4 separate regions of the Homo sapiens genome follow, and all the other regions are linked to region 1. The links come from fine-mapping of genetic effects on gene expression. A gene starts in region 1. Each other region holds a variant in brackets. All regions are shown on one strand. Distances are from middle to middle.

Region 1 (8,192 bases):
AGGAAGAAGAGCATGCTGTATTCCACAAGAGAACAATATCATCTGGATTCCAGCACATTCCATTTAGACATGAATCTGAGTTAAAACTATCACTATAGCAAATAAGGTTGTATGAGGACTTGTGCATAACAAAGAGTCAATTTATGGCCAAATAAATCATCACGGATTTTATCATACTGTCTAGCCAGAGTGAGTGCAACCTGAGTTACGCCAACTTTGAAAGAGAAGGGAAGTAGAAATTTCTTTGCATCAGTCTCTAAGTGTGGGAGTCTGGTAAGTAAAGACACACTCAAATCATAGGTCTTGCCATCTCTTCTTAAAATCCCTCAGTCGGCTGTCTAGCTGAAACTCTAGGGGAGAGGAATTTACCCAGCTGGAATCCTCACCAATTTCCTTCCAGGTCTCCGCATGTTAATAGTCAAGACTTCACAGCCCAATGTTGAAGGCAGATTTTTATAGCAAGTACATACCTGTGGCAGTTTCACATCATTAATATCCCAGCTTAATATCTCTTTGTCTTCAGAATCAAAGTCGTCAGGTTCCATGATAAGGTCAGGCCAGCCAAGGTTTTCACCTATTCGACTCCCCTCAGAAATGCTTGAGAATTTTGTTCTCAAAGGTTCTTGATATAGCTGGATCGGCCCACTCAAGCACCTTGGACCAGGAGATTGTTTTCTAGGGCTAAAAAAATAAGTTATATTAGTATTGGCCATTAAAGAGATTTAAAAAAAAACCCCAATGCTCCTCTGCCAGAAAAACCTGTTTCACTGACATTTTTGCAAGTACCAACATACTAGTAAAAAACAAAACATAGGAGCCATAAGTGATTTTACTTAAAACTTGGCCATCGGGAATTAGAAGCGTGTGATCACTGCTTTCACCCTTGGGTTTGGGCTTGCTTTCTCATTGCAAGATCCAGGTTGTGAAGGCCTTAGCAGAGACAGTTGTCATCTGTAACCAATGGCTAGGACTTTTCCTGCTAGGGCAGGAGGATACTGGCTTGGAGTTGTTTCCATAGAAATGCCTTTATAAATTAGCTAATGTGTGGTTGAAGCTGCAAGAGGGGAACATCACACTGAATTTATCTAGGAAAATACATATATGTTTTATATATATATATATATATATATTTTTTTTTTTTTTTTTTTTTGAGATGGAGTCTCACTTCTTCACCCAGGCTGGAGTGCAATGGAGTGATCTCGGCTTACTGCAACCTCTGCCTCTTGGGTTCAAGCAACTCTCCTGCCTCAGCCTCCCCAGTAGCTGGGATTACAGGCATGTGCCACCACGCACAGCTGATTTTTGTATTTTTAGTAGAGATGGGGTTTCACTCTGCTGGCCAGCCTGGTCTCGAACTCCTGACCTCAAGTGATCTACCCGCCTCGGACTCCCAAAGTGTTGGGATTACAGGCGTGAGCCACCGCACCCGGCCAGAAAAAAAATATATTTGAAAATCCAAATCACTGTAAGGATTAGGTTTGGTCTCTGCAATAAATCCTGTGCGCACGATATATCTTCAAATATTATCAACTAATATGCTTATATCTGATTAATCTGAAACAGGGTTTCTTAAGTTTGGCACTATTGACATTTTGGACCAGATAATTCTTTGTTGTGGGGAGCTTTTTTCATGTTGTAGACTGTTTGGCAGCATCCCTGGTCTCTACCCATTAGGTGCTAGCAGCCTGTAATCCCAATACTTTGGGAGGCCAAGACACATGTATCACTTAAGTCTATGAGTTCAAGACCAGCCTGAGAAACATGCAGAAACCGTGTTTATACAAGAAGTACAAATCACTAGCTGGGCATGGTGGTGCACACCTGTAGTCCCAGCTACTTTGGGAGGCTGAGGTGGAGGATTACCCGAGCCCAGGAGGTTGAGGCTGCAGTGAGCCAAGATTGTGTCACTGCATGCCAGCCTGGGTGACAGAGTGAGACCTTGTCTCAAAAAATAAATAAATGAATGAATGAATAAATAAATAAATGAATGAATAAATAAAAGTTTGTTCAAATGGCATTTCTTCCCTCACGAGAAATAGTGCTCTAATTTCTAACTATAATTGGTTAAAGGAGGTTTACCAAGAAAAAAAGAAAGAAAATTTGAAGTGTTCTACCCTGAGGAAAAAAATGAATAATTTTGCAGATGAAAGCTACTTGTTAGTACGATATGAAGTGAAACATGTTCACATGTATAACATTTCATTTATTGGTACTCTTATAAAAACAAGAGACATAATGATGTTATGTAGAGCTATTTAATAGCGAACTCAAACTATAAGGTAGATTAATAGTCTAAGCTTTGGCGAGACCCATGAACTCTTTTCTTTAGTTTTTATTGTTTTTTTTTTTTTTTTTTTTTTAATGGAGTCTTACTCTTATCACCCAGGCTGGAGTGCAGTGGCGCAATCTCAGCTCACCATAGCCTCCACCTCTGGGGCTCCAGTGATTCTTTTACCTCAGCCTCCCAAGTAGCTGGGATTACAGGCACGCACCACCACACCCAGCTAATTTTTGTATTTTCAGTAGAGATGGGGTTTCACCATGTTGACCAGGCCGGTCTTGAACTCCTTTCCTCAGGTGATCCATACGTCTCTGTCTCCCAAAGTGCTGGGATTACAGGCATGAGCCACTGTGCCCGGCCTGTTCTTTAGTTATTTAGTGTTATATAATCCTAATACTTGTCAATCACTGAACTCTACCAAGGGAAAGTGTATGTATATAAAAGACCGTTGACCTGAACATAAGAATGAAGTTCCTTTTTTCTTTTTTGTGTGTGCTCTAGATGTCCAGAGAAATTTCTCTAGTAACAAACTATAGAAATGATCCCTGAAAGTATAGTCTTTATAAATAAAGTTCTTGACCATTAAATGACAAGCTAATCAGAGTCTCTTCCTGTCTGTTCCACATACCCATACTGAGCTACAACCTAGTGGTTGCAGAGCACGAAGTTTCTGTTCCCCAACTGAATGTTGATTTTCAAGACTAAATCCTCATGGATTTTAAGTAAAATTCTATGTTTAGGAAAGAAACATTGTGTTACTGAAGAAATGATGCCGCAAATTGACTCTAATTCAAAGGACTTAAATAACAGGTATAGAAGATGCAGATACCAAGCAGCAGTTCCGTGTACTTACCCTGAACAGTAACGATATTGTCTCTGATGGTGCAAATTTTGTTATAACTAATTGGAATAGATCTACTTTTTAAAAACCTTGGCAAATAAGATTCATATTTTCAAAAATCAAAAACATTGTTATAAAGCCTAGGCAATATAGACATAATTATTTTGTTTTTAAATTAAGGGAAGAATAATAAAGAAAATTTTATTACAGAACAACTATGTTACATTTTAGATTTTTCTCTCGATATTAACATTTGCTAAGCGAATGAGCATTAATTTAATATTTCCCTAAAAGTTAAGAACAAAACATAGAAAAGAAGAAAAAACCATTTTACAGCCCTTAAGTAAACTCTGTTTTCCTCTTCTAGGATTGAAAAACTACACTTGTCAAGACTCCTTTTTTTAAAGCAACTTGCGCAAAGTATATTCAATTTTCATCATTTCTACAGAAAAATGAACTAGAACAAATGAAACCCTGTAGGAATAGAGTGGTCGTTGCCACATCCCTTACATTTGCCTCTCCACGGGATTTCTGGCTTTCTTACCTTCTAACTTCTTACGGAGAAGCAGACAGCACTGTGTCGTGAAAATCTTACTGCTGGTTCAAGTCCCAGCAGGCTCTGGTCATTTTCTGAGCAGACGCTGTTCCCTATTCCAGGTCAGGGTACACTATGCTAATGAGTTCTGGCAATGGTCCAATCAAAATCTAGATGCTCTAGGCTCTGGATAGGTAAGAGCAGCCTGGGAGTCACTTAACCAGCCTGATTCTTCCCAGAATGCCAGCAATGTGATGAATATTCTATGATGTGTCTCTGAACTTCCCCCTCCCTTTATGTTATGAGGACATTTGAACTAAAATGGACATTGAAAAGAACCTCATAAGGAAGTACAGATGTTTTTCTTCTTGTGATGTTACAGGTTGGGCCCCAGGCAGACGATTCACAGTAGGTCCTAATTCTCCCACTATTTACCCGGCAGGTAATAGTTCTCTCTCATGTGTGCAAGAGAGAGAAGACAGACAGACAGAGATAGAGAGATATTATGGTGAGGAAATTTACTGGAATAGACAGTGGATAGCCAACATCCTCTATACCAGAAATACTGAAATGCTATCTTAACCCTAGCAATAATGTCCCACTAATTCTAAGTGTTCTGATCCCCTAAAAATATACAATTCTTGGCCGGGCGTGGTGGCTCACACCTGTAATCCTAGCACTTTGGGAGGCCGATGTGGGCGGATCACAAGGTTGGGAGTTCAAAACCAGCCTGGCCAAGATGGTGAAACCCCGTCTCTACTAGAAATACAAAAATTAGCCAGGTGTGGTGGCGAGCGCCTGTAATCCCAGCTATTTGGGAGACTGAGGCAGAGAATTGCTTGAACCCGGGAAGCGGAGGTTGCGTGAGCTGAGATTGCGTCACTGCAGTCAAGCCTGGGTGACAGAGCGAGGCTCCATCTCAAAAAAACAAAAACAAAACAAAACAAAACAACAAAAAAAAACGAACAAACAAAAACCAATTATTTCTTCTAGAGATACCCTCAGTGCTATTCTTCCTTTTAGAGACATCCGCAGTACAGCCTAAATCAGTTCAGTTCATATGTTTTGTTCTAGGTAGTCTGCCAGGCCTTGGCAACACAAGAGAGAATGAAAGCCATTAAGAAGTTCATTCTAGTAGAAAAGATGATTAAAGCTACTAAATAAGGCCGATTTAATTTGATGTATAGAATAAAAGTAATATAAATGAGAAGGCTATTAAGCTGGAGGGAGGAGAACCAAAGGAAACCCACCAAAATAATGCTCGATGAGCCTTTTGAAGGACAAATAGATATTTATCAAGGCGTGAAGGACTGGAAGAGGGTGTTTCGGGGAGTGACAATATCCTGGACAACATGACGAGGGATCAGTACCTGTCAGGAAGGTCCAGACTTTCAAGGATGAGGCTTAGGAGGCAGAGATGAGAAGGCGAGAAGGCAAAAGGCTTGGAAAGCCTCATAGTTGCATTCGGCGGCCCCTAATAGATTTCTCATTCGTCTTTCAGTTCATGAACAAATTCCTTTCCTGCCTGAAGTTTAAGACCCTGCTTCATCTTTTTTTTTTTTTGAAACGGAGTTTTGCTCTTGTTGCCCAGGCTGGAGTGTAATTGCACTATCTCGGCTCACCACAACCTCTGCCTCCCGAGTTCAGGCGATTCTCCTGCCTCAGCCTCCTGAGTAGCTGGGATTACAGGCGCACACCACCACGCTCGGCTAATTTTGTATTTTTAGTAGAGATGGGGTTTCTCCATGTTGGTCAGGCTAGTCTTGAATTCCCGAACTCAGGTGATCCACCCGCCTCGGCCTCCCAAAGTGCTGGGATTACAGGCGTTAGCCACCACGCCTGACCAACCCTGCTTGATCTTATTGTACTTTATCTGGCCAGTCTTGGTCTCCTCTCTGTAATCCCTTTGTTGGTCAGGAGGACATTTCTCCATCCATCAGATACATTGTATCAGGACAAAGCCTAAAATTATGCCAGCTGGTGAAAGAGGATGTCTACAGGGTCTAGGTCCAGAATCACAAGCGGAGTAAAGAGTGGATTTAGTGTCGACAGGCAATAAGTCAATCACTGGCACACCTGTTGTGCTTATTCACTTACTTAGGTCTATTCTCTAGTGTATTTTTCACATCCATATATCTGAACCCTGTCTACCCTTCAGGATCCCCAAAATGCCACCTCCTTATGAGAGCTTCCCACACTATTCAAGAACACATGATTCCTCATTTCTGTGATGCTCTTTTGTTTCTTTTTTGAGACAAGGTCTTACTCTGTCACCCAGGCTGGAGCACAGTGGTGTGATTATGGCTCACTATGGTCTCGCTTTCCTGGGCTCAAGTGATCCTCCCGCCTCAGCATCCCAAGTAGCTGGGGCTACAGGTGCTCACCACCACGTCCCGCTAATTTTTGTATTTTTTGTAAAGATGGGACTTCACCATGTTGTCTAGGCTGGTCTTGAATTCCTGGGCTCAAGAAATCGCCTGCCTTGGCCTCCCAAATTGCCGGAACTACAGGTATGAGCCACGGTGCCTGGCCATGTTGAACTCTTAACTGTGAATTATATGCTGTCTTGTATCACTTGGATCTAACAGTGTTTTTAAATTACAAAATAAATTCATGATTTATAAAAAAGTCATATTCTCATCTCCCATAGGTTTCCACTGTTAACATGTCAGGCATGTCCTTTCAAACTTTTGTTTTCCCATATCTTTTTGTTCCCATATAGAACAAAAGATATTATTTTTATTTGCAATCCTATTTTACGTGATATTGCCTTTAGTTGTTTTGTTTTGTTTGTTTGGTTGATTGGTTTTGTTTTGCTTTTTTTGGAGATACGGTTTCCCTGTGTGGTCCAGGGTAGACTCAAACTCCTAGGTTCAAGTCATTCTCCCCACTGAGCCTCCCAAGCAGCTGGGACTCCAGGTGCCCGCCACCACATCAGGCTATTGCTTTTCATTGTTGATGAGTGTTGGTTCTGGCTCCCCAGTGAGGCTGCTAGTTCTTTCACGGCCAAGTTGGGATCTTCTACTTTCCCTCTCCTCATAGAAAGACTTGCTGAGTTTCCAGCAGCAACATCACAGCCATCCTTGTCCCAAGCACCAACCCTACTCGGACACAGGAGGGCGCTGAGAAGCTCTGCCTTCACACTCTGATAGAGGTGTGACATGATGTCCAGACTAGTAAGGGTATTTTTGCTTTCTTGAGGCCAAGGTCCCAACTTATTACCCAAATTCTCCTAATTGTTTTTGTTTTGTTTTGTTTTTTGACACAGGGTCTTGCTCTGTCCCCCAGACTGGAGTGCAGTGGCACAATCTCAGCTCACTGTAGCCTCCTCTTCCCAGGCTCAACCTATCCTCCCACCTCAGCCTCCCAAGTAGCTGGGACCACAGGCACATGCTACCACACTCAGCTAATTTTAAAAACTTTTTGTAGAGACAGGGTCTCACTGTGTTGCCAGGCTGGGCTCGAACTCCTGGGATCCAGTGATCCACTGCCTCAGCCTCCCAAAGTGCTGAGATTATAGGCGTGAGCCACCTTACCTGGCCAAATTCTCCTAATTGGATCTCTGTCATTGTTATTAATAACAATAATCATAGTAGCTTCCCTTGACTGCACATTTACAATGAATCAGGCGCCATGCTTAATCACCTGTCTGTATTATCACTCTTGATCCATACAGCATCCCTATCAGATAGATACTATTTTTATTATGCCTCCTTTGTGGAGAAGGAGATCAAGGCTCAGACAAATAGCTTTACACAGAAATGTAAGTAGCAGAGCTGGGGTAGAACTCAGAGACATGCCTGTTGACCACGGTACTGCATGAAGAGCCCTATGTGTTCAGCATCTGGAGTCTTTGTCTCCACTCCTATAAAATCTGAGTTCTACATCACTCTTTCCACCCTGTGCCTCCTCCCCTAGAGACAGGAATCCTGCCTTAAGCCAGGTGGCTAGAGGCCCTATTACTTGGTAACTGACCTCAACCACTAATGATTGGATTTCTCAGTATCTCTACTTTTGCATTCCCTGACACTCTGAGGCCTGCCTATTGAGATCATTCTGGTTTTTTTTTCATCAATAGTGGTGCTTTAGGCATTTTAAGCAGGATAATTATTTGGGTCAGACTGTCCCATGCACAGAATTCCCAGACGCAAGATGCCAGCAACATCCCAGTCACAATATCAACCATAACCCACACCTTCATATTTCTACATGTTCGGGAACCAGGGAGGGAGCAGTATTGTGCTGCCTTTGGTTTGGGGTGACCATGCCAGACTCTCAGGGCTGACAAGTTTGCCTAGACTATTGCCTGCGGTTTCCAATTCACAGCCTAAAAGATACCTTGTTCTACCTAATGGATGAACTTCTACACTTACAGTTCTATCCTTCTGGTATCTACCCTATCTAGTTTCAGCCATTTGCCCAGTTCTTCTACTGTGGACTTTTTTTTTTTTTTTCAAGACAGAGTCTTGCTCTGTCACTCAGGCTGGAGTGCAGTGGCGCAATCTCGGCTCACTGCAACCTCCGTCTCCCGGGTT
Region 2 (8,192 bases), 87 kb after region 1:
TTGAGCATAAAGGTCTTCATTATGAGTCAGGAAATGTAAGTTCCACTTCCAATATGAGCTGTGTCGCTGTCACAAATGGCTTTATTATTCAAAATTTTCAGACCACAGTTTCCGTCTTCATTTGACTGAGAATAATTCAACGACAGAGAATGTTCTAGTCTCCTTTGTGTCTCTAGTATCTAGTACAGGCCCCAAAATGTTTCAGGGTGGAATGGCTAGGGAAGGAGGAGAATAAAGGAGGAAGAGATTTATCTTGTAACATCTGTCCTGATGTTAGCAATATTAATTAAAACAGTTTGCAGGTTTTGTTGAAAAGGTCTGTTGTCCATCTTGGTGGCAAACTAGGAGGAAATGGTATCTAGCAAAGGCCTCTTTGGCATAAAGGGCACAGAATGTGAAACTGACATGTACACACAATGGGATGCCTTCCTTTGGCCACCCTTCGTTTCCCCTTGTTCTTTCCGAAGCAACTGACACCACAAAATGAGAAGAGGTGGAACGGGAGAACGGCTCGCAACAATGACTTACCTGGCTGCTTCCTTTTCAGTTACCTTTGTGGACAGACACAAGAATGCAGAGGCCAGAGCTGCCCTAACACAATGTGGAATTGTGAGCTAGTTTTGTGCCACTAAATATTCTTTGTGCCACTATATATTCTTCAGTGTCCTCAATTCTTTTTACCTTTGCAGAGCTAACTCTTATTTTAGGGTTGTGCCAGGATTTAAACTGGGAGCATCAGCTGCAGAGGGCAAAGGAGTCAAGCTAATAAGCTCTCCAATTCTGCTTCTTGCAGACTGCTTCAGTTTTGAAGGAGAAGTCGTCATTTTTAGAATTCTTACTTGCGTTCACCCTGTACCCTGAATGATTAACTCCTAGTGTGTCCCTTAAGTTTAACCCATATTCCCCCTCTGCTCCTAGGAATGTGAGCACGCTTTCCACTCAGTGACCAGGATTTTAAAAAACTATTTTCAATCTGCCTCCTCTTCCTCTACCCATTTCCCCAATTGCAGCCCTTACCCTCCACCCCTCTCCTATTAAACTCATGTCCATTCAATCTCCAGACTTGTTGGGGGAAGTGGCAGCATTGTAAGATAAACCTTAAGCAATTATTAGTATTTATTTATTTATTTTGAGACGGAGTCTCTCTCTTTCGCCCAGGCTGGAGTGCAGTGGCGTGATCTTGGCTGCAAGCTCCGCCTCCGGGGTTCAAACGATTTTTCTGCCTCAGCCTCCCAAGTAGCTAGGACTACAGGCGCACGCCACCATGCCTAGCTAATTTTTGTATTTTTAGTAGAGATGGGATTTCGTCATATTGGCCAGGCTGATATCGAACTCCTGACCTCGTGATCTGCCCACCTCGGCCTCCCAAGGTGCTGGGATTACAAGCGTGAGCCACTTGCACCCGGCCTATTTTTTTCTTTATCTTAAGTTCCAGGGTACATGTGCAGGATGTGCAGGTTTGTTACATAGGTACACATATGCTATGGTGGTTTGCTGCACCTATCAACCCATCGCCTAGGTATTAAGCCCCACATGCACTAGCTGTTTTTCCTGGTGCTCTCCCACCTCCGGCACCCCAGCCTGAAGTTATTATTAAAGTTCAGTTTAACTCTTGTGGTGTCTACAAAGCGTGACTTTGTTGAGTCTTCAACAGATTGTAGCATTACTCACCTTATGTCATTAAACTGGAGAGGCTGGGGTGATAGGATAAGGGAAGCACACAGCTCAGCATGTGGGGAGTTTATTTAAAACTCTTGTGTCTTTCATTGACTAGGCAGATGAAGTCATTGCTGACATATAAATCAACAAAATACTTTTAAAATGTAACTTTCTTTCGTGGTTTGTTATAATAAATTACCCCTGACTACTCTTTAAAAAAATCACAAAGAGAAAATTATAATTTTCCTTCATCAAGTTCAATACTTGTGAGCGTCTTTCAGGTAAATTAAGAGGAAAAATACATACAAATAGTTACATTTTGGAAATATTTGCACCTAAAACAACAGAATATGTTCTATGGGAGTAATAAGTAGTTCCTAATGTTGATTTATCTAAATGTATTATTTCTTTTTTTTAATAATGTGACTATGATGACCAGGAAAGGAGCCAAAAAAAAAAAAAAGGTTTGAAAATAAATGAAAATAAATGCAAAACCTTAAGTGGTGCACACCTGTAATCCCAGCAATTGCGGGCGGGGGAGGTGGGGCAGTGGCTGAGGCTGGAGAATGGCTTGAGCCCAGGAGTTTGAGACCAACCTGAGCAACATAGTAAGATCCTGTCTCTTTAAAAAAGAAATAAATCGGCCAGACATGGTGGTTCATACCTGTAATTCCAGCACTTTGGGAGGCCAAGGTGGGCAGACCACCTGAGGTCAGGAGTTTAAGACCAGCCTGGCCAACATGGTGAAACCCTGTGTCTACTAAAAATACCAAAATTAGCTGGGCGTGGTGGCGGGCGCCTGTAATCCCAGCTACTGGGGAGGCTAAGGCAGGAGAATCGCTTGAACCCAGGAGACAGAGGTTGCAGTGAGCTGAAATCACACCACTGCACTCCAGCCTGGGTGACAGAGCAAGACTCCATCTCAAACAAACAAACAAAAATAAAAGAGAAATAAATAAATAAGGAAAAAAGGAAAAAGAAGAACTTGTGAACTTGCAAAGAAAAATGGTCTCATTTGGTAACACTGCCCAAATTGGGTGATTTTTTTTTTTATTTTATTTTTTAACTTTTTACTGACAAGAGAGATTCTCTGGCACGAACTGAAGGTGCCCTCTCTTCTGGGTGATGTGTATTAACATTGTACTGAGTCTGGTTAGGGTGGCTCTTGACAGGATAATACTTTCTTTTTTATTAAAAATAATTGTATTTAGGCCAAGTGTGGTGGCTCACGCCTGTAATCCCAGCACTTTGGGAGGCTGAGACAGATGGATCACCTGAGTTCAGGAGTTCAAGACCAGCCTGACCAATATGGAGAAACCCCGTCTCTACTAAAAATACAAAATTAGCTGGGCGTGGTGGTGCATGCCTGTAATCCCAGCTACTGAGGAGGCTGAGGCAGGAGAATCACTTGAAACTGGGAGGCAGAGGTTGTGGTGAGCTGAGATCGCACCATTGCACTCCAGCCTGGGCAACAAGAGCAAACCTCAGTCTCAAAAAAAAAAAAAAAGGAAAAAAATTTGTATTTACTTAGAAGCATTCAGAATGTCAACAAAATGTCAACAAAACAGCTGCAACTTTTTTTTTCAATTATAGAGTGGTATTCAGTTAATGGAACAACAATTATTTGGTATAAGCTGCATCAGAGACAACTGAAGATGAAAAAAACTACCATCACCATGTATAACTAATTTGCGCTGTGCACCAAAAAGAACCTGTTTGAAATTTTCATGCCAATTTACAACCCCCATACTTTACCAGGCAAGGTTAGTGGTTATTGAAAATACTAGCAGGGCATGGTGGCGTGTGCCTGTAATCCCAGCTACTCAGGAGGCCGAAGCAGGGAAATCGCTTGAACCCAGGAGGCAGAGGATGGAGTGAGCCAAGATGGTGCCATTGCACTCCAGCCTGGGTGACAGAGGAGACTCAGTCTCAAAATATAAAAAGAAAAAAATACCACCAAGACATCGCTATCTAAAGAAACATTTCGGTAATGTGTTAATTATACAAAAAAATAGAATGTATGGTTTAAAAACAAATTTTACACAGCCTTACATTTCATTTTTTTTCTTTAAAAGGAGTGAGTTGTGTACAGGCGGGCTAAATGCTTTACAGACAAGAAAAAAAAAAACTAGAACCAACTTATTCATTATCATTGTCTTCTTCATCTTCATCTCTTTATCTTCC[C/T]CCTCCTCACCCTCTTCATTTTCCTCAGCTTCCTCCTCTTTTTCTTGCTTTTTTTCAGCCTTGACAACTCCCTTTTTTGCTGCATCAGGCTTTCCTTTAGCTCGATATGCAGCAAGACCCTTTTCGCATTTTTCCTTCGGCTTTGCAGCCTTCTTCTCCTAAGGCTGCTTGTCACCTGCAGCAGTGTCATTCCACATCTCTCCCAGTCTCTTCGCAGCATCACCAATGGACAGGCCAGGATGTTTTGGGCAATACTCAGAACAGAATAGAAAAAAAGGCTGAAGGAGGCCTCTTGGGTGCCTTGGGATCCTTGAACTTCTTTCTTGTCTCCCCTTTAGAAGGGATATAGATTTTCATTTCTCTTTCATTATGGGCCTTGTCCGCCTTTGCCGTATCTTCAAATTTTCCTTTCTCTTTAGCAGACATGGTCTTCCACCTCTCTAAGCACTTCTTAGAAAACTCTGAGAAGTTGACCTAAGCATCTGGATGCTTCTTCTTATGCTCCTCCTGACAAGTTTGCACAAAAATGCGTACGATGACATTTCGCCTCTTGGCTTCTTAGGATCTCCTTTGCTCATGTTGAGTAATTTTTCCTCAGTGAGGCACAGAGTCGCCCAGTGCCTGTCTGGCTTTCACTTTCCCTGGTGCTGTCTCTATCGAGAGGATAATAATTTAAAAGTTGTAAATAAGCATGTCTTATCCTTCAGTTCTCTAAAGCAGGTTTTACATGAAATCTGAATCTGACTGAGAATGTTACTGTTCATTCTTTTCAAAGTTCCAAGTAGACAAGCCACAAAAGCAATTTCTCAGTTTCTTTGGTATGGCTCATGCAAATAAAAACTGGTGGCTAAGACCTAAAGAACAGTTTTAATCTCTGAAATACCGATGACTTCAGGCAGAAGCACAGATGGGTAGGAAGAGGGAGGCAAGGGGAGAGATTTCTCTCCCATGATCATGTTGTCCCAAAAAGGGTCCTTGTGTACAGTTTATAAGGTCACATGTTGACACAATGGTTGTTAAGACCTTGATGAAAAGAGTCAGAGGAAGCCAGTGTGAAATACTCAATGACATATCAGTGGTGAGGCCTTGAGGCATATAAAGAAGGTCATCAAAGTTTGCCATCTCTTTTATCTGCTCTTGCCCACCTCTGCCTAGATGTTACAAATGAAGGAAATATTTGTTGAGAATATATTTATCTGAATGCACTACGTGAATAACGAGAATGTTGGAAGAATGTATGACGGTATATATTGGCTCTTTCAATATTAAGGACCTCGTATAGTCCTTTACTAATCTTAAGGCTTGTCCAAAAAAGATTAAACAAATACACAAAAACAGCCTCCTCCCTCCTACAGTAAACCCAAATAAATCTGATCAGCTTGAAATTATTTCTACAATAGCTCTCACGGCTATCAGGATTTAGTCTGATCTCCTGGCAAAGCCAACCCAGCCCCGCATGAGCCCCCGACCCTCTGCCTCCATCCTTCTCATTCCCCCCGCTGACCCCACCCCCGCCCCCCGCCATGTTAACTGTGAGGTCCTTGACATGCACGCTCCCGCCTCACACCTCCAAGCCTTTCTTTCTCCTGTTCCCTTTACCTCCATGTCTGTCTACTCTCACCTGTCCTTCCACATTTAGTTCCGACATCACCTCCTCCTGAAGGCTTTCCTGCACTGTCTCCTTGCTCACACCAAGACTGGTGCCTCGCCAGTGTGTGGCCATGCATGCTGTCCAGGACTCCAGCACAGGGTTCTACTGAATGGAAACCTTTTTTCTTTTCCTGTTTACTGTTTCTTGTTGTTGTTGTTGTTGAGAGAGTCTCGCTCTGTCACCCGGGCTGGAGTGCAGTGGTGCGATCTCAGCTCACTGCAGCCTCCATCTCCCTGGTTCAAGCGATTCTCCTGCCTCAGCCTCCCAAGTAGCTGGGATTACAGGCATGTGCCACCACACCCGGCTAATTTTTGTATTTTTAGTAGAGATAGGGTTTCACCATGTTGGTCAGGCTGGTCTCGAACTCCTGACCTCAGGTGATCCACCCACCTTGGCCTCCCAAAGTACTGGGATTACAGGTGCGAGTGACTGCACCCAGCCTCCTGTTTACTGTTTCTTTTCTCGTAATACAAAACCTGTCGGATAGTAAGTGTTTAATGTACATTTGATGAATGAATGGTTTAATCAGAGTTTGTTTCTAATCTTGTTTCCAGCCCACATTAGCTTATTCACCTGTGTGCAAAAGTGGATGAGGACAAATAATTGTTAAATCGTTTGCTTGACTAAGAATGTTTTACTGATAGCAAGTTGGCAATCTGAAAATTAGTGGGAGAAGTAGTGATGGGTACTGAACAGACTGCCAACTTAGATTCTGATTATCTGCTGTGAATCATTTCTTTAACCTTTGAAAGCTTTTAAAATTATTTTTCTGGGTATAATAATAATGTGGCTAACTAAAAATAATGAAGATCATGTTTATTGTAGATGTGTGCTAAACATCCATGTTTTCATCCAAGTGCTACAATTGCAACCCCCACATTACCTCCTTTCCCCACTCTGCCTACTCCTAGCATACATGCGGGCATGCGTGCATGCACACACACACATACACACACACACACACACACCCCTAGACTAAACCTTACCAGATTTAGTCTGGTAAGACACATTTCACCACATTTCCAAAGTTATAATGGATCTTGGAAGGGAAAGCTATGGAAAACAGTGATAGAAACATACTTATCACACAGCGATAGAGCTCCCTTTTGATCTCTTCAAACAAGACAAGAAACAAAGAGCGAAAATCATCTGAGAATTCAAAACTGCTGGACTATTCCCATTGCACCGAGTCATGTGGATCTGTGTCAAGTACACAATCAGTTGCAAGTCAGCTGATAGACAGAAAAGAGTTACTTCAGAAAGATAATCTCAGGGAGCTTATTATACTCCCTTTGAAGTAATGAGTCCAGTGAACTTGAACTGGAGACTTGAAGTCTCTGATTTCTGCTGTCACTGGAAAGGAATTACTTTTTCTTTTTTTTGAGACAGAGTCTCACTTTGTTGTGCAGGCTGGAGTGCAGTGGCGCAATCTTGGCTCACTGCAACCTCTGCCTCCTGGGTTCAAGTGATTCTCCTGCCTCAGCCTCCTGAGTAGCTGGGATTACAGGTGCGCACCACCACGCCCGGCTAATTTTTTGTTTGTTTGTTTGTATTTTTAGTAGAGATGGGGTATCACCATGTTGGTCAGGCTGGTCCCAAACTCCTGACCTCGTGATCTGCCTGCCTAGGCCTCCCAAAGTGCTGAGATTACAGGTGTGAGCCACCATGACCGGCCAGGAATTACTCTTGACAATTTTCTATGTAATTTATTGGAGAATGACAAAAGTGGTTGAAAATATTATTAGCTGGAATCTTGGCCTGTGTTGGTAAACAACAGATAAAAAGTTTTAAGGGTGGAACTTGCAAGTCTAATTACACAACATTAAAAATAAGTCTCCATATCAAACATAATTAGTAGATTTCAGATGAACTTGAGGAACTATTAGAACAACTTACCTAAAGCAGTTTTGTTTCTCAGAAAAATGACGTTATAGATCTGGCCTAGAATTTGGCATAGAAACTTTTCCTACAAGGTATAATGAGAAACAGAATCAAAGCAAGAGTCTTAAGACTCAGTCTTAGTTCTAGTTTGGTCTTTGTGATCCTGGCCAAGTCACTTCAACATGAACTTGGTTTTCTATGTCTACAAAGTAAAAGGGTTGGGCTACTATCGCTGCTGTACTACTACTACTGATCTATTTGTGCTGGATTATTCTATATCCAGATAAATGAGGCCAAGTGTTTCTGGCATCACCAACCACCATTTAAACAAATAGCATCCCCTCCATAGGGGAGGAGGCTGCACACATCTGCTGCTCTCCACCCTGAGAATGTGGATGAATTCCAATCAGCAGCCACCACCTGACTGATTTGCCCACAGCCTGCTCTGGGTCCATTGGCTGGGAGGCTTCTGGAGGCAGCTGGGTCATGTCATCCCAACCCAAACTGGTGATGTGAAAGAACAGTCACATGTGTGAGCAGGTGCATAACCCATTCTCAGGAGGGAGAATGGAGTGAAGGAACAGTGGTTTAGGTAATGACTCATTCAGGTTATTCATTCTGTGTGTAAAGCCCAAGGCCCTCCAACTGGCCCTGACCTACCTGCCCCGACTCTTCTGCTTTCCCGACACCTTCTCTGGGCCTCTATTGCCCTTCTCGCTAGTGCAGCTGGCCCCTTGATGGCTTATATAGAAGATAATGTACCTAAGTCATTCGTCACCCCAACCCTTGTGCATAGGTTTTCCTTGTTGCCAGAACC
Region 3 (8,192 bases), 70 kb after region 1:
CAAATGGGGCCAAGGCCTGTCTTGATTGTAGCAGAGTGAACAACGCAAGAGTCATGAGACATGAGGTCTGAGCTTCTGTGTGAGCCTGGATGTGTGTGTATGTGGAGAAGCTATTCATGTAGGGTCTTGCAGCCAAGAATATGTTTATATATGTTTCCCTAAAATTATGCCTGATAACAATTTTCTCTTTCAGGAGATTACTTAGATCCAAACCAACCTAGTTTTCATTTCTCTTGGCATTTTGTCCAGCTTCCTGCAAGCTGCAGCTCCTCAGAATTTCCCCACCACTACTACCTTATTTTCTTTGCACATTTAGCTCAGTCCTGTCTCCAAGAGCATCACAGCTCTGTCATTTGAAAAGCACTTAGTGAGTTTGGTGGAAAACTAGGAATTAATACTATCACAGAAGCTGAAAAGTAGTTTCAATACAAAGAAAATGGTTACAGTCAAGTCCCTTGTAGGGCTGTGTCAGGCAAGCATAGTGTCCTTTGGTTATAGAAGAACTAACAAGTTACTTTTCTATTTGACAGGAGCATTTCATTAACTTTAAAGAAACGAGGGCCTGTGGAGCAAAAGATAGAAACCAGCAAGCCATATTGTCTAGAATTAAATGGTTAAAACAGAGAAAATAACCACGAAATGAAAGAAGACTGGGCATCAATTGAAAAGACAGAAAGTCTAAAGGTTTTTTTAAATAGGTAACTTAAATGTATTTAAATATGGTTAAATATTACATATTAAATATGGAACAGAACAACACTGATGACTGACAGTTTGGCTGGTTCTAATAAAAAGATCTTAGTCTAGTTTAATAATTAAAATCTTATTTTGACTGATATGTTCATTACTGGTTCAGTGAAATTTTAAAAGGGTCACTTTCATCTCCAAATACGCTGACCTGGAACATATCTGATCTGGGTAATATAAGACTCATCCCAGAAAGTTCAATGGTAAGAAGGTTAAAAAAACATTCTAGCAATTAACTGTCAGAAAGTTTCACAAAGGCCTCTGGGCAGAAAATCTAATTATATCAGATAAAAATGCAATGCTATCAAGAAGAAAAAAACAATGTTGATGATATAGACTGAATATTTGTGTCCCACCAACGTTCATATGTTGAATTCTAATCCTCAATGTGATGGTACTAGGAGGTGGGGTCTTTGGGAGGTTATGAAGTCATGAGCAGAGTCCTCATGAATGAGATCCTTGTTCTTATTAAAGATACCCAAGAGAGATCCCTGCCCCTTCTGCCATGTGAGGACACAGCAAGAAGATGTTTATCTAGAAACCAGGAAGTGGGCCTCACCAGACACCGAATCTGCCAACGCCTTGATCTTAGACTTTCCATACTCCAGAAATAAATTTCTGTTGTTTAGAAGTCACTCAATCTATGGCACTCTGTTACAGCAGTCCACGCGGACTAAGACACTTGATATATCATATATATCATATCATATGTATCATATAATCTTTGGAAATATAACTAAAGAAATTCCTCTTGTTTCAAAAGAACAGAAAGCAGACAGGTGGTTTATAAATACTCTATAAAACACAAGAACACCATGAGGAAATGTGATACATCTTAGTAGGGGCCAAACATGGAGGTGGTCTCCTTGAGAAAATATCCCCTGCATGTTCCAGACAGACCGAATGGCCAACCCTGTGTCTCATGGGTGGCCCTCTGGAAGCACAGTCCACATTACACTGACATTACCTATTTATGTGCTTGTGTCCCTAGTCAGAGTGTAAAGTCAAGGTCAGAGCCTGTGTCTTACTCATTTCCCAGCATCTAGCCCAGTGCCTGACCCATGATAGGTATCCTGCAATGGGAGGGGAGCTGAAGTGAGTGATACTGACAGAGGTTAGTTAGGGGAGGTCTTGTACTTCTCTTGAATCTTTAACCTACCTTCTTATTGACCACAAATTAGAAGCATTTATGTAAAAAAGAAACTTCCAACAATTATATTCACGTTTTTCTTTCAGCTTGCTTATGGGCAAGTATTTCTAATGTAGAAACCTAAAAAATTTGAGGCATTCTAATACCTGTTAAACATACAACTACAGACCAAATGATTTGCTATATTTTTTTTTGCAGTCTAGTTGAGGTGTCTATATAATGAGCAGAATGGGCTCCCGAACACTGGACAGTAAAATAATTAAGAGCTGGTCTATGGTATGTATATATGTATGTATGTATTTATTCTGAGACAGAGTCTCGCTCTGTCACCCAGGGTGGACAGCAGTGGTGTGGTCTTGGCTCACTGCAACCTCCAACTCCCAGGTTCAAGTGATTTTCACACCTCAGCCTCCCGAGTAGCTGGGCCTACAGGTGTGCACCACCACATCCGGTTATTTTTGTAATTTTTGGTAGAGATAGGAGTTTCGCTATGTTGGGCAGGCTGGTCCCGAACTCCTGGCTGCAAGTGATCTGCCCACCTCAGCCTCCCAAGTGCTGGGATTAAGGCATGAGCCACTGCACCTGGCCTATGAGTCTTTATTGAGGGCCTGCTCTGTGCGGTTTTCAGTACTAGGTATAATATGACAAGATAAAGTCCCTGACCTTCATGAACTCACACTCCAGAAAATAAATGAATAAAATTTCAGATAATACGAGCTGTGAAGAGAAAAAGGAGTGACTTGAAGGAAGAGGTATGACAGGGAAAAACTCTTGAGGAGTTGATGTTTGGCTGCGACCCAAGTGAAGAGGAGGCAGCCACGTGATGACTCGCAGGAAGACCATTCTAAGAAGAAGGCCCAACAATTTTTTTTTTTTTTTGAGACGGAGTCTCGCTCTGTCCCCCAGGCCGGAGTGCAGTGGCACGATCTCTGCTCACTGCAAGTTCCGCCTCCCGGGTTCACGGCATTCTCCTGCCTCAGCCTCCCGAATAGCTGGGACCACAGGCACCCGCCACCATGCCCGGCTAATTTTTTGTATTTTTAGTAGAGACAGGGTTTCACCGTGTTAGCCAGGATGGTCTTGATCTCCTGACCTTGTGATCCACCCGCCTTGGCCTCCCAAAGTGCTGGGATTACAGGCGTGAGCCACTGCACCCAGCCAAGGCCCAACAATTTGAAAGCTCCTGGAGAATTTGACAGATATAAGGAGGCCAGTGTGGCTGGAGCCTGGTGGATGAGCAGAAGAGTGTGGGTGAGGACTGAGCAAAGAAGGCAGGGTCAAACCATAAATCATGCTAGGGGCTGGGTTATTACCCAACACATAATTGGAAGCTTTTGGAGGAATAGCAATGTGATTAAGTAAAATTTTTGTTTGTTTCTTTTGAGACAGGGTCTTGCTCCGTCAC[C/G]CAGGCTGGAGTGCAGTGGCGCGATCATGGCTCACTGCAGTCTCGACCTCCTGGGCTCAAGCAATCCTCCCACCTTGCCCTCCCAAAGTGCTGGGATTATAGGTGTGAGCCACTGTGCCTGGCCTAGCAAATGTTTTTAAAATATCACTCAGACTGCCATCTGAAAAGGGGCTGCTGGGATGGCAAGAATGAAAGCAGGAAGAGAGGACTCCAGGAGGGTGGGTTCCCTGAAGCCTAGAGAAGAAAGGGCTTCCAGAAGGATGGAGTGGTCAACTTGCCAAATCCCACAGAGAGGTAAGGTAAGGACAGAGAATGGACCATTGGCTTTGGCAAGATATAGGTAGGTCACTGATGACCTCAGTAGGAGCTGTTTAGTAGAGGGATGCCATGGAAAGCCTCGTAAGAGTGGACTGAGGATGTGAATAAATCAACTACAGTCAACTCTTTTGAGATGGAGTCCAGTTTCATGCCTAGACTGAAATTCAAGATTCATAATGAAGAATTCACTTTTATCAAGCATTGACAGGAGTTAGACACATCTCAAACCATATTTTAAAATACAGCCAGATTACAATGTTACCTGATTCTGAGACTGCCTGTAACTTGATTCATAATAGTGACAGACAGCACTTGGACTAGGACACTAGAGCTGCTGAGAAGGAAAATTGCACCCAGCTTCTTTGCTTCCTGCAAAGATGCACCAGGATCAGAGAAGAAAAGACCAAGTTCTATAATTACCTGGCAGGGGAGATACCATGAACACAAAGATGGTTTTCCCAGGGTGAGTCTCATCCATTGCCCTCCGGATGTGCTGACCCCTGCGATTTCCCCAAATGTGGGAAAGTCGACTGCATAATTTGTGTTAATGGGGGACTGTGTCCACGCTTTCCGCCGGAAAAAAAAAAGAAGAAAAGAAAAAAAAAAAGAAAAGACAAGACAAGACCAAGTTCTGAGAGTGCTTGAAGAAGCGGTACTAGGAGAAGACTGCACTGCCCTAAAACCTTTGACCAGAGATTCTGGGAAGGCTTGGACAGTGACAGGCATGCTGGACCCTGCAGCTGTTGACAAGGGAGAAATCTTAATTATATTGGGTGAAATTCTCCTATAGAGAAAAGAAGATAAAACTATATGTTTTTGACCAGAAATGCCCAAGAGAGCTCTGCTACCCTCAAGAATCTATTCTTCCTGAAAATGTGAAGATAATGGCTTAGATCTGGAAACCAAAGATAGTCTCAGATGTGGCTGTGAATTTTAGTGGGTGGGCAATGTGGGGTGGAGTGGGGATAGAGGGCTGTTGTGGAAAAGGCAGCCCAGCCTGCTCAGAGGTGTGTATATAGACCCACATTGCTGGCAAGCAACTCATCTCACTACCACACAATGTTTTTTTGTTTTTTGTTTTTGTTTTTTTTAAGACAGAGTCCACTCTGTTGCCCAGGTTGGAGTGCAGTGGCATGATCTCAGCTCAATGCAACCTCTGCCTCCTGGCTTCAAGCAATTCTCATGCCTGAGCCACCTGAGTAGCTGGGATTATAGGTGTGGAGCACCACACCTGGCTAATTTATTTTTTTTGTATTTTTAGTAGAGATGGGGTTTCACCATGTTGGCCAGGCTGGTCTTGAACTCCTGACCTCAAGTAATCCGCCCACCTCAGCCTCCCAAAGTGCTGGGATTACAGGCGTGAGCCACTGTGGCCAGACACAAACAATGTTTTTTTTGTTTTTGTTTTTGTTTTTCTTTGAAACAGGGTCTCACTGTTGCTCAGACTGGAGTACAGTGGTGCAAACATGGCTCCCTATAGCCTGAACCTCCTGCACTCAAGTGCTTCACCTGCCTCAGCCTCCTGTGTAGCTGGGAACACAGATATACGCCACCATGCCTGGCTAGCTTTTGATTTTTTTGTAGAGATGAGTTTTCACTTCATTGCCCAGTCTAGTCTTGAACTTTTGGGCTCAAGCAATCCTCCCACTTTGGTCTCCCAAAGTGCTGAGATTACAGGTGGGAGCCATTGTGCCCAGCCTTTCTGCAGCTGGAAAAAGAAGACCAATGAGCTGTAGAGGGAGAAATTCCACAAGGCATAAAAATATACCAGGCTTATATCATCCAGGGCTGCAGATGAGCCACAGTTGAGGAACCAGGCCATGGAACACAGTGAGGGAATTCATTCTGCTAAATTAAAGCATCCTTCCTCCAGGATTGTCACCATGAGGGCATGGCCTGGCCAGAGTTGAGACTGTCAAATGGCTCTCAAGATAGTTCTGAGGTCTAATATAGAAGAGGCTAATGAAAAAGGAAGTTGCTCATGAATGCTCACCCACTTACTTTAAAGAGGTAAGTCAACAAGAACACTAGGTGGGATGGAGTGGGGGATGGGATAATTGTTGCTGATTAAAAAAAATTTGCAAAATTGTTAAAATAAAGGCTGGAAAATAATCACCTACAATGGATGTATGACTGCTTATTTAGGTATTCCTCTATTGTCAGACACATAGAATGCTTCCAAACCTTGTTGATGCAGCCATTAGCATGGTTATCATGCTGCTACGGCACAGAGAAGCGGATGCCAGGCAGGACCACCTGGACATGCACTCCGATTGCAGAATGTGAAAATCTCCCGCAAATCGAGAAAGATCAGAAAGGGACATTGAAAAATGAAAATATTTTCGTTAGGATTGTGGGCTTATGTGTATTTTGAAAAGTTTAAGTTAAAGTTATTATCTATTTAAATGTTCAGTAAATTTTTTAGGCAACTGTTTTGTTTGTTTGTTTGAGACGAAATGTTGCCCTGTTGCCCAGGCTGGAGTGCAGTGGTGTGATCTCAGCTCACCGCAACCTCTGCCTCCAGGGTTCAAGTGATTCTCCTGCCTCTGCCTCCCTGGTAGCTGGGATTACAGGTACCCAACCCCATGCCCAGCTAATTTTTGTGTTTTTAGTAGAGACGGTATTTGGCCATGTTGACCAGCCTCGTCTTGAACTCCTGACCTCAGGTGATCCGCCTGCCTTGGCCTCCCAAAGTGCTGGGATTACAGGTGTGAGCCACGGCACCCGGCCCCAGGCAACTGTTTTAATAATAGTTTTGGTAATGGCAATAGATGAAGTTGTGAGCCGCTAGGCACATGGCAGCGTTAACTCATACTGGTTGCCTTTGTCCACATCTCCAATCCAAACACTGCGCTTTTCCTGAGCCCAGAGAATGGTGGGTCCTGGGACCCTCCTCCACAGGAGAAAGCAGGCACAGTTACTTTTCTTACTTGAGTCTGCTGAGGACTGAAGATCAGCCACGGAGAAGCCCTGGGGTGAGAATCAGACCAAACTCTAGATGCTTGAGGTGGGAAGGCCTGTTGATCCCTGGGGGAGGAGCTGTGCTTGTCCACTCAATAATTCCTTAGAGGTTGCTCTCCCATGCCAAGGAGTGAGGGAGCTAAGCTCTTTCTACCTGCAAGGCCTACAGCCAGTCAGCTGAGGAGACTGGGGAGAGAGAGGCTTCCTCCTTGTGTTCAGGTGGGCTCTGTCAGCTGGGCAGTGGTTGCACAGCTGAACCATGTGGGGAGATAGTAGTGTTCCTTCCACCACTCATGGTACTGCTGCCTGCTATGGTCTGAACGTTTGTATCCCTCCCTGACAAATTCATATGTTGAAACCTAATCCCCAGTGCAATTGTTTTAAGAAGTGGGACCTTGGGAGGTGATGGAGCCCTCATGAATGGAATTAGTGCCCTTATAAAAGACACCAAAGGGAGCTCATTCACCCCTTCTGCCATGTGAAGACACAGATAGAAAATGCCGTCTATTAAGCAGAGAGTGAGCCCTCACCAAACACTGAATCTGTTGACATCTTGATCTTGGAATTCCCAGCCTCTAGAACTGTAAGAAATAAACTGTTATAAGCCATCTAATTTAGGAGATTTTTTTTTTTTTTTTTTTGAGACAGAGTCTTGCTCTGTCGCCTAGGCTGGAGTGCAATGGTACAATCGCTACAATCACCTCTCACTGCAGCCCCGACCTCCTAGGCTCAAGTGATCCTCCCACCTCAGCTTCCTGACTAGCTGGGTCTATAGGCATGCTTCACCATGTTTGGCTAATTTTTGTATTTTTTGTAGAGATGGAGTTTTTGCCATGTTGTCCAGGCTGGTCTCCAGCTCCTGGGCTCAAGCCATCATCTCGCCTTGGCCTCCCAAAGTGCTGGGATTACAGGTGTGAGTCACCATGTCCTGCCAGGATTTTTGTTACAGTAGCCCAAATGGACTAAGATGCTACCACTGTAAGTTCTCCCCAGGCCTGAGTGAGCCACTGAGGGAAAATAGCAAAGAATACCTAAGGGACCCAATAGCCAGAGAAACGGCAAACAAGCAGAAAGTCGGCAGTCCCCACGAAAGTGGAACTGTTGGAGAAAACAAATGACAACCTGAACCAAAAAATGATAAGAGCATTTACAAGAACTCTAGCAGCCCCCATGTGGGGACAAGACTGACTTTATTTTAACTGCTAATCTGCCTGACTAAGCCTGAGTCCAGGAATGCCTCCAAAATATGTAGTTGATGTATTACTCCTTATGTAGGAACACCTATTCATTGTACATTTCTTCCAAAACAACCTTCATTGCAGAAATCATATGCTGTGACCCCCAAAGTCACCTACATGTTCTTTCCAGGGTACTTATGCTTTTTTCCCATGATATAAGCCCTGGGTCTGAGGCCCTGTGGGGCAGAGCTCTACCTGTTTCTTGGCTGCCCAAGACCACACTTCTCTCTGTAAGTTCCCTTCATAAATCACCCAATGCTGAGAAACTGAATTTGTCTGCCTCATCCTTTGGTTTCTTGGCTCCTTCAACATTGGGGTTCACTTCACATATATGGACCCTTTCATGGAATACCCCCGATCCCCACACAAAAAT
Region 4 (8,192 bases), 43 kb after region 1:
CATGGTGAAACCCCTTCTCTACTCAAAATACAAAAATCAGCCGGGCGTGGTGGCAGGCGCCTGTAATCCCAGCTACTCGGGAGGCTGAGGCTGGAGAATCACTTGAACCCGGGAGGCAGAGGTTGCAGTGAGCTGAGATTGCGCCACTGCACTCCAGCCTGGGTGACAGAACAAGACTCTGTCTCAAAAAAAAAAAAAAAAAAAAAAAAAAAGCTAAAGAGAAGCCGGAAGTGCTTCCTCTGAATGAAAAGGTGAAAGTTCTCAGCTTAAAAGAAGAGGAAACCATCGTATTTTGAGGTTGCTAAGATCTGCAGTAAGAAGGAATCTTGTATCCCTGAGATCGTGAAGAAAGAAAAAGAAATTCATGCTAGTTTCGTTGTTGCATCTCAAACTGCAAAGCTCACAACAGTGTGTGATAAGTGCTTAGTTAAGGAAAAAAAAAACATTGAAATGTGTGGGTGGAGGTCATAAACAGAACTGTGTTCCGCTTGATGGCGATCAGGTTCAGTGCTATGGGCAGTTTCAGGCTCTGAACTTATCCCCTGTGGATAAGGGAGCGGGAGGGCTACTGTCATCCCTTTTCAGGAATCAGTTGCAGAAGAGATGTCTCTAGAACTCCTCCCACCAAGGTGAAGCTCCACCAAAAGCACCAAGAACCATAATACTGGTATGTCTGATCTGGTTTTGTTTTTGTTTTTGTTTTAGAGACAGAATCTCACCTGTGACCCAGGCTGGAGTGCAGTAGCTCACTGCAGCCTAAAACTCCTGGGCTCAAGAGACCCTTCCAGATCTCTTGGGACCGTAGGGTCCCAAGTAGGACCACAGGCATGCACCACCACACCCGGCTAATTTTTTATATTTTTTGTAGAGACAGGGTCTTGCTTTTGTTACCCAGGCTGTGATCTGTTTATTAAAATATGTCACTAGAGGTTAGAGCTACATCTCCTACTATTCTGCCTAGTAAGCATAATTAAGTAAAATATTCACTAAGTATAATTAAGTAAGTATTCATTTAGTGAAATAACTGAGTAGGAATCTAAGAACTAGGTTCCAGCCTAATCTATACCCAATGTGTAAGATATTACATGGGATCTGATCCTTAGCAAATGTCTTTATATTGATCCACAGTAGATCAACAGAATATATTTTTTAAAGACCTGTTCAAAGTTTTAGACAACTAGGGCCAGGCGTGGTGGCTCATGCCTGTAATCCCAGCACTTTGGGGGGCCGAGTTGGGTGGATCACAAGGTCAGGAGTTTGAGACCAGCCTGACCAATATGGTGAAACCTCGTCTCTACTAAAAATACAAAAAAAATTAGCCGGGCGTGGTGGCACATGCCGGTAATCCCAGCTACTCAAGAGGCTGAGGCAGGAGAATTGCTTGAACCCAGGAGGCGGAAGTTGCGGTGAGCCGAGATCATGCCACTGCACTCCAGCCTGGGCGACAGAGGGAGACTCCGTCTCAAAAAAAAAAACAACAAAAAAACACAAAACTAGATCATACAAAGTTAAAATATAACTTTCTTGAGAGTCATGATTATATTTAGCAACTTAAATCATTGCCACTGAAAAGCTTGGCTTCAGTTTTAAGCAACTAATCTAAAAGCTATGGCACAGAGCTTGCAAGGTGTGGGCTCTAAAGGGTTACATTACATAGCTAAATCATATAGTTGCTTGGCTGCCTTTATGCTAGACATCAAGTCAGGCAACTGGAATTCAACTCCTGGCAACCCCATTTACTACTTAGCTCTTGGACAAGTCACTTAATCTCCTTGCATTTCATCTGTAAAATAAAAATGATAATACATTCCTGCCTCATTCCACCACTAATGTAGGTGGAATAACATAAGTATGCAATAACTCTAAGACTCTAAGGCTCTGTGAAAATGTTAGTTATTTTTAACGTAAACTACAATAATGGTCAAAATGGCCAATATTGGCCAAAGCCACACAGGATCCTTCCCAATCCCTTGAAATCACCTTCTGATAACATTGTATATTATTATATTTTATATATTTCTAGTAGATGGACACCCACCTTCCACCCTCAAGTACACCCCAGCGCCTGTTGTTCACCACCTAGTGTCCATGTGTTCTTGATGTGTAGCTCTGACTTATAACTGAGAACATGCAGTATTTAATTTTCTGTTCCTGTATTAGTTTGCTTAAAATAACGATCTTGTTCTTTTTTTTTTTTTGAGATGGAGTCTGGCTCCATTGCCCAGGCTGGAGTGCAGTGGCACGATCTCGGCTCACTGCAAGCTCTGCCTCCCAGGTTCACGCCATTCTCCTGCCTTAGCCTCCAGAGTAGCTGGGACTGCAGGCGCCCATCACCACGCCCGGCTAATTTTTTTTTTTGTATTTTTAGTAGAGACGGGGTTTCACTGTGTTAGCCAGGATGGTCTCTATCTCCTGACCTCGTGATCCACCTGCCTCAGCCTCCCAAAGTGCTGGGATTACAGGCGTGAGTCACCGTGCCCAGCCAATCTTGTTCTTTTTTATTGGCTGCATAGTATTCCATGGTATATATGTAACCACATTTTCTATCTTTTTTTTTTTTTTTTGGAGACAGAGTCTCGCTCTGTTGCCCAGGCCTGGGCGACAAGAGTGAAATATGTCTCAAAAAAAAAAAATTAGCCAGGCATGGTGGAACATGCCTGTAGTTGCAGCTACTAGGGAGGCTGAGGCACAAGAATCATCTGAACCCAGAAGGCAGAAGTTGCAGTGAGCCGAGATGGTGCCACTATACTCCAGCCTGGGCAATAGAGCGAGACTCTGTCTCAAAAAAAAAAAAAAAAAAAATAGAAAATGTGATTACATATATACCATGGAATACTATGCAGCCATAAAAAAGAACAAGATCATGTCTTTCACAGCAACATGGATAGAGCCAGGGCCATTATCCTAAGCAAACTAATGCAGGAACAGAATATTAAATACTGCATGTTCTCAGTTATAAGTGGGAGCTACGCACAAGAATACATGGACACTGGGAGGTGAACAACAGGTGCGCTAGGGCATACTTGAGGGTGGAAGGTGGGAGCAGAGAGGGGATCAGAAAAAATACCTATTGGGTACTATGTTCATTGCCTGGGGACAAAATTTTCTGTACACCAAACCCCTGTGACACACAATTTACCTATTTAACAAACCTGCACATGTACCATAAACCTAAAATAAAAGTTAAAAAAATGGGAGAAAGAGAGAGAAAAGAATCTGGTAAAGCTTTCTTTTTCTTTTTTTTTTTTGAGAAGGAGTTTCGCTCGTCGGCCAGGCTGGAGTGCAATGGCACCATCTCAGCTCACTGCAACCTCTGCCTCCTGGGTTCAAGCAATTCTCCCACCTCAGCCTCCTGAGTAGCTGGGATTACAGGCGCCTGCCACCACCATGCCCAGCTAATTTTTTTTTGTATTTTTAGTAGAGACGGGGTTTTGCCATGTTGGCCAGGCTGGTCTCAAACTCCTGCCCTCAGCCTCCCAAAGTGCTGGGATTACAGGCGTGAGCCACTGCACCTGGCCTCTAGGTGTATATACTTCGGTAAATAAATATTGATATTCATATGCATTAAAATCCTTGGAAGAATAAAAAAGAAACTTGTTTTAGGAAGGGAATGCTGGGTAGATGGGGGACAAGTGTAGAAAGAAACTTCACTCTGTAATTTTCTCTTAGTTTTTTTAGACATAGGAATGAATTACACATTCAAACATTTTTAAAAATAAACAATTTGGCTGGGCGCGGTGGCTCACGCCTGTAATCCCAGGATTCTGGGAGGTCGAGGTGGGTGGATCACCTGATGTTAGGAGTTTGAGACCAGCCTGACTAACATGGTGAAACCCTGTCTCTACTAAAAATACAAAAAAAATTAGCCAGGCATGGTGGCGCATGCCTATAACCCCTGCTACTTGGGAGGCTGAGGTAGGAGAATCAGTTGAACCTGGGAGGTGGAGGTTGCAATGAGCCGAGATCGCGCCACTGCACTCCAGCCTGGGCAACAAGAGTGAAACTCCGTCTCAAAAAAAAAAAAAAAAAAAAAAAAAAAAAAAAAAATAATAATAATAATAATTTAAATATGAAATGAAAGTAACTCTCTTCTAAAATTCTTATAGTGTGGTTTCTTGGTGGCCACCAAAACCCTTGTCACAACTAGCTCTGGGAGTTGAAGATGTATAGGAAGATAAGTGGTTTATTTTGCTATTTAATCAACTTTAAGTCT[C/T]TAACAAGTATACTTTGATTTAATGAAAATGGCAACTCAGCAAAGGATTTAGGGCTGTAATTCAGGATGAAACAAACAGGTTGTGATGAGGAAACTCCCCTGCCTGAGGGGTGTCCTGAGAGGGTCAGAGGCTCCAGTCTAGTGAGATAGGAAAGGAAATGCATTTGCCAAAACGGAATTTAAATTTTTTTTTAACTCTTATTTTAGATACAGGGGATACATGTAGATTTGTTACATGGGTATATTGTGTGATGCTGAGGATTGGGATACGGATGATCCCATCACCCAAGTAGTGAGCATAATTTTTCAAACCTTGTCCCCTTTCCTGCCTGCATCCAAAATAGAAATTTGAAAATAATTCTCCACACACTGCAGTGGATGTTGGCAAGGGAACACCATTGTTTCCTACTTAACCCTTGCTGGATGTGTTTAAGAGTTCTTACCAGATTGCTGGCAGCAAAAACACTAATGTATTCATTCATTTACTTAGATCAATACAGTCCGATTCTTTGCCAAAACCCCTGTGTTACTGCTTGTCCTGTCTCTCGAACAGGGTGTTCTGGTCAAATCAAGAGGAGATCAAATGTCTAGGCCTTCACTTTCAGCAGCTGGAACTGAGTTGAAAAAGAGAGACTGCCCTCTGAAGCGAAATCACAAAACAAAGGTGAAAGGAGAAGGCCATCAACAAAAGAAAAAGAGAAGCTGAATTTATTATCTTTTTGTTTTTCTCCCTGAGGCAATGGAAACAGATAGCAGAGGCGTGGCTCTCCAGGCGACTTCTGTGCTTGCCTGGTCAGCACATACAGGGCATTCTTCCTAGCTTCCAGCCTGCTCTGCAGAGTCCTCCCCTCCTTCCTTCCTCCCAACCTCCCTCCCTTGCTCTCTTCCTTAACTCTTGGCTTCATTCTGGGTTTTTTTGTTTGTTTGTTCTAAATTCTGTTTGCTCTTCGTTCTGTTTTTTCGTTTGTCCTAAAAGTCAGGTTTATTAAAATATAACTTACATAGAGTGAAATTCACCCTCTTTAGGTGTACAGTTCTATAGTTTTATAACCACCCAGATATAGAGCATTTGCATCAAGACATAGACCATTTCCAACTGGGTATGGTGGCACACACCTGTAGTCCCAGCTACTCGGGAGCCTGAGGTGGGAGGATGGCTTGAGCCCAGGAGTTTGAGGCCGCAGTAAGCTACGATCATGCCACTGCACTCCAGCCTGGGCAACACAGTGAGGCCTCATCTCTCAAAAAAAAAAAAATTTATAATAAAAATAAAATATAACAAATTAAACTTAGCTACAAATAGTTTCGAAACTGCTCTCTGGGAAACAGTTCTCCACCTTTGACATTTAATTTTATAATAAAAAAACATTTCCATCACCCCTCAAAATTCCCTGTGCCTCTTTGCAGTCAGTTTCAACAGATGGTCTCTGTTCAAAGTCATCTCTGCTGCTTATTGATTTTGTGCTGTGGACAAATGACTTGGCTTCCCTGTGCCTCCGTTTCTATATTTTTTAAGTGGGGATAATGATACAAACTAGTTCATGGGGCTGTTGTGAGGAGTAAACACTCAAAAATGACTTGTCATCATCATTATTGTGTGCATAGTTGGTGCTCTATAAACAACAGTTTGTCATGTGGGCAGGCACATGCTGAAACATTGGTCTGTTGCATACTTGCTTCATGTTCAAGAGTCTGGCACCAGCATACAGTTGGTTTTCTCTAATTCATAGGATTTTATGATCCCAGAACTGATGGGTACAAGAAATTAACTAGTCCAGTCCCCTGCCTTCCATGACAGGATAAAATATTGTTGTTCTCATCTTAAAGAGTAGCTCACTGGGCCGTCAAAGGCAAATCTGTTCACCTAAGGGGTAGAAAATGGAAGATTTAATGGAAAATGAGAAAGATCAGGCAAGGGATACATTGCTCAAGGTAATCATAACAGCTAAGAAATGCTAAAGGAGGAACAGATTTCAGATTTCCTGCTTCCAAATCTAGAGCTCTTTTGACTACATTGTAGCATTAATAGATGTATCCTTTCTAGATCTTTGGTTGTAGTTAGTGACAGTAACTGTAACATTGAGCAAAGACTAACATTAATAGATGTATCTTCTCTAGATCTTTGGTTGTAGTTAGGGACAGGAACTGTAGCATTGAGCAAAGACTAAATTAACATTAATAGATGTATCTTCTCTAGATCTTTGGTTGTAGTTAGTGACAGTAACTGTAACATTGAGCAAAGACTAATATTAATAGATGTATCTTCTCTAGATCTTTGGTTGTAGTTAGTGACAGTAACTGTAGCATGGAGCAAAGACTAAATTAACATTAATAGATGTATCTTCTATAGATCTTTGGTTATAGTTAGTGACAGTAACTGTAGCAAGGAACAAAGACTAAATTAGAAGGGGAAAACTTGCAAGGCCAGTTTGGACAGTTCACTTCTGCAGCAGTTCATTTGCTGTCAGTTTTGTTGTAGTCTTTTTTCCTGCCTTTCCCTAGTAAATATTTCCAGTAGAAAGAGAGAAAATACAGCTTGAGCAACATGGCAAACCCTGTCTCTACTAAATATATAAGAAATTAGCTAGGCACAGTGGCGCACGCCTGTAGTCCCAGCTACTTGGGATACAGAGGTGGGAGAATCACTGAGCCCAGGAGGTCAAGGCTGAAGTGAGCCGAGATCATGCTGTGGCACTCCAGCCTGGGAAACAGATGTGAGATCCAGAAAGAAAAGAAAGAAAGGAAAAAAAAAAGAAAGAAAAGAAGGAGGAAGCAAGGAAGGAATATAAGAAAGAAAGGAAAATAAAAGAAAAGAAAGAAGAGAAAAGGAAAACAAATGCAGGAGGTAGGAAGGAAAGGAGAGGAGCGGAGAGGACAGGAGGGGAGGGGAGGGGAGAGGAGGGGAGGGGAGGGGAGGGGAGGGGAGGGGAGGGGAGGGGAGAGGTGGCCAGTCGTGGTAGCTCACGCCTGTAATCCTATCACTTTGGAAGGCTGAAGCAGGAGGATCCCTCGAGTCCAGGAGTTCAAGACCAGCCTGGGCAACATAGGGAGACCCTGTCTCTATTAAGAAAAAAAGAAAGAGAAAGCATACTTTTTCCTGCTTGAATATCTGTATGAGTAGCTATGGGGCTGTGTTCAGGCCTGGGAATGAGTAGTCTGTCACCCACATACCTGAATCTCTACCTGTGGGGCCAGACACTTTAGGATACCGTAGGATGTATTATCTTCAGGAAAACACCACCTGATCACCCAGACCTAACCCTAAGGCATGCGCGCCTTACCTTTCCTGCCCCCACCAGCCCTAGCACCTGAAAAACAACTTTGAGAGAGTTTTTTCTCTTCAGCCAAGCACCCAATTGCTTCATTAAAGTGCAAACAGACCCTAAAAGAGGTATGACAATAATTGTACTAAGTAACAATGACTCAGTGTTCCTCCAGTCATTCTGATTAAATTTAGGAGAAGATCCCTAACACTTGTTAATTATCCTTTTAACAAAAGATCCCACCCTTCAGCAGGCAAAGGTATTAAACTAGATTTAAGAATACTGTTTTATTTCTGTGGTATTTATTTTAAAGTTACTTTCTATTTGTGGCAAATACTTTTCATTTTACGATGTCATATAAATTTTCCTTTTTTTCTTAATTTTTGAGACAGAGTCTCACTGTGTCGCCCAGGCTGGAGTGCAGTGGTGCGATCTTGGCCCACTGGAGCCTCCACCTCCCGGGTTCCAGCGATTCCCCTGCCTCAGCCTCCCCAGTAGCTGGGATTACAGTTGCACGCCACCACACCCAGCTAATTTTCGTATTTTTAGTAGAGATGGGGTTTCACCATGTTGGCCATGCTGGTCTCGAACTCGTGACCTGAAGTGATCCGCCTGCCTCGGCCTCCCAAAGTGTTGGGATTACAGGCGTGAGCCATCGCGCCGGGCCTGAATTACTCTTTGTCTATTGCAATTCCTCTGTCTTGATGAATCAGCTG

The links.
Region 2: its variant is fine-mapped to the expression of GCM1 in whole blood (TOPMed, PIP above 0.99).
Region 3: its variant is fine-mapped to the expression of GCM1 in whole blood (TOPMed, PIP 0.91).
Region 4: its variant is fine-mapped to the expression of GCM1 in whole blood (TOPMed, PIP above 0.99).

The regions. Positions count from the first base shown.
Region 1 is chr6:53,145,088-53,153,279 of GRCh38, forward strand. GCM1 (glial cells missing transcription factor 1) reads right to left here and starts at 3,754. Exons shown (of 6, transcript NM_003643.4): 1 at 3,667-3,754; 2 at 471-681. The coding sequence starts at 545. It also overlaps the pseudogene LOC124901513.
Region 2 is chr6:53,231,823-53,240,014 of GRCh38, forward strand. It overlaps the pseudogene HMGB1P20. Among named protein-coding and RNA genes, the nearest start is that of MIR5685, 41 kb to the right of the region's middle. The variant C/T (reference allele first, on the strand shown) is at 3,844.
Region 3 is chr6:53,215,229-53,223,420 of GRCh38, forward strand. It overlaps the pseudogene RNU1-136P. Among named protein-coding and RNA genes, the nearest start is that of MIR5685, 58 kb to the right of the region's middle. The variant C/G (reference allele first, on the strand shown) is at 3,303.
Region 4 is chr6:53,188,079-53,196,270 of GRCh38, forward strand. No RefSeq gene overlaps it. Among named protein-coding and RNA genes, the nearest start is that of GCM1, 43 kb to the left of the region's middle. The variant C/T (reference allele first, on the strand shown) is at 4,214.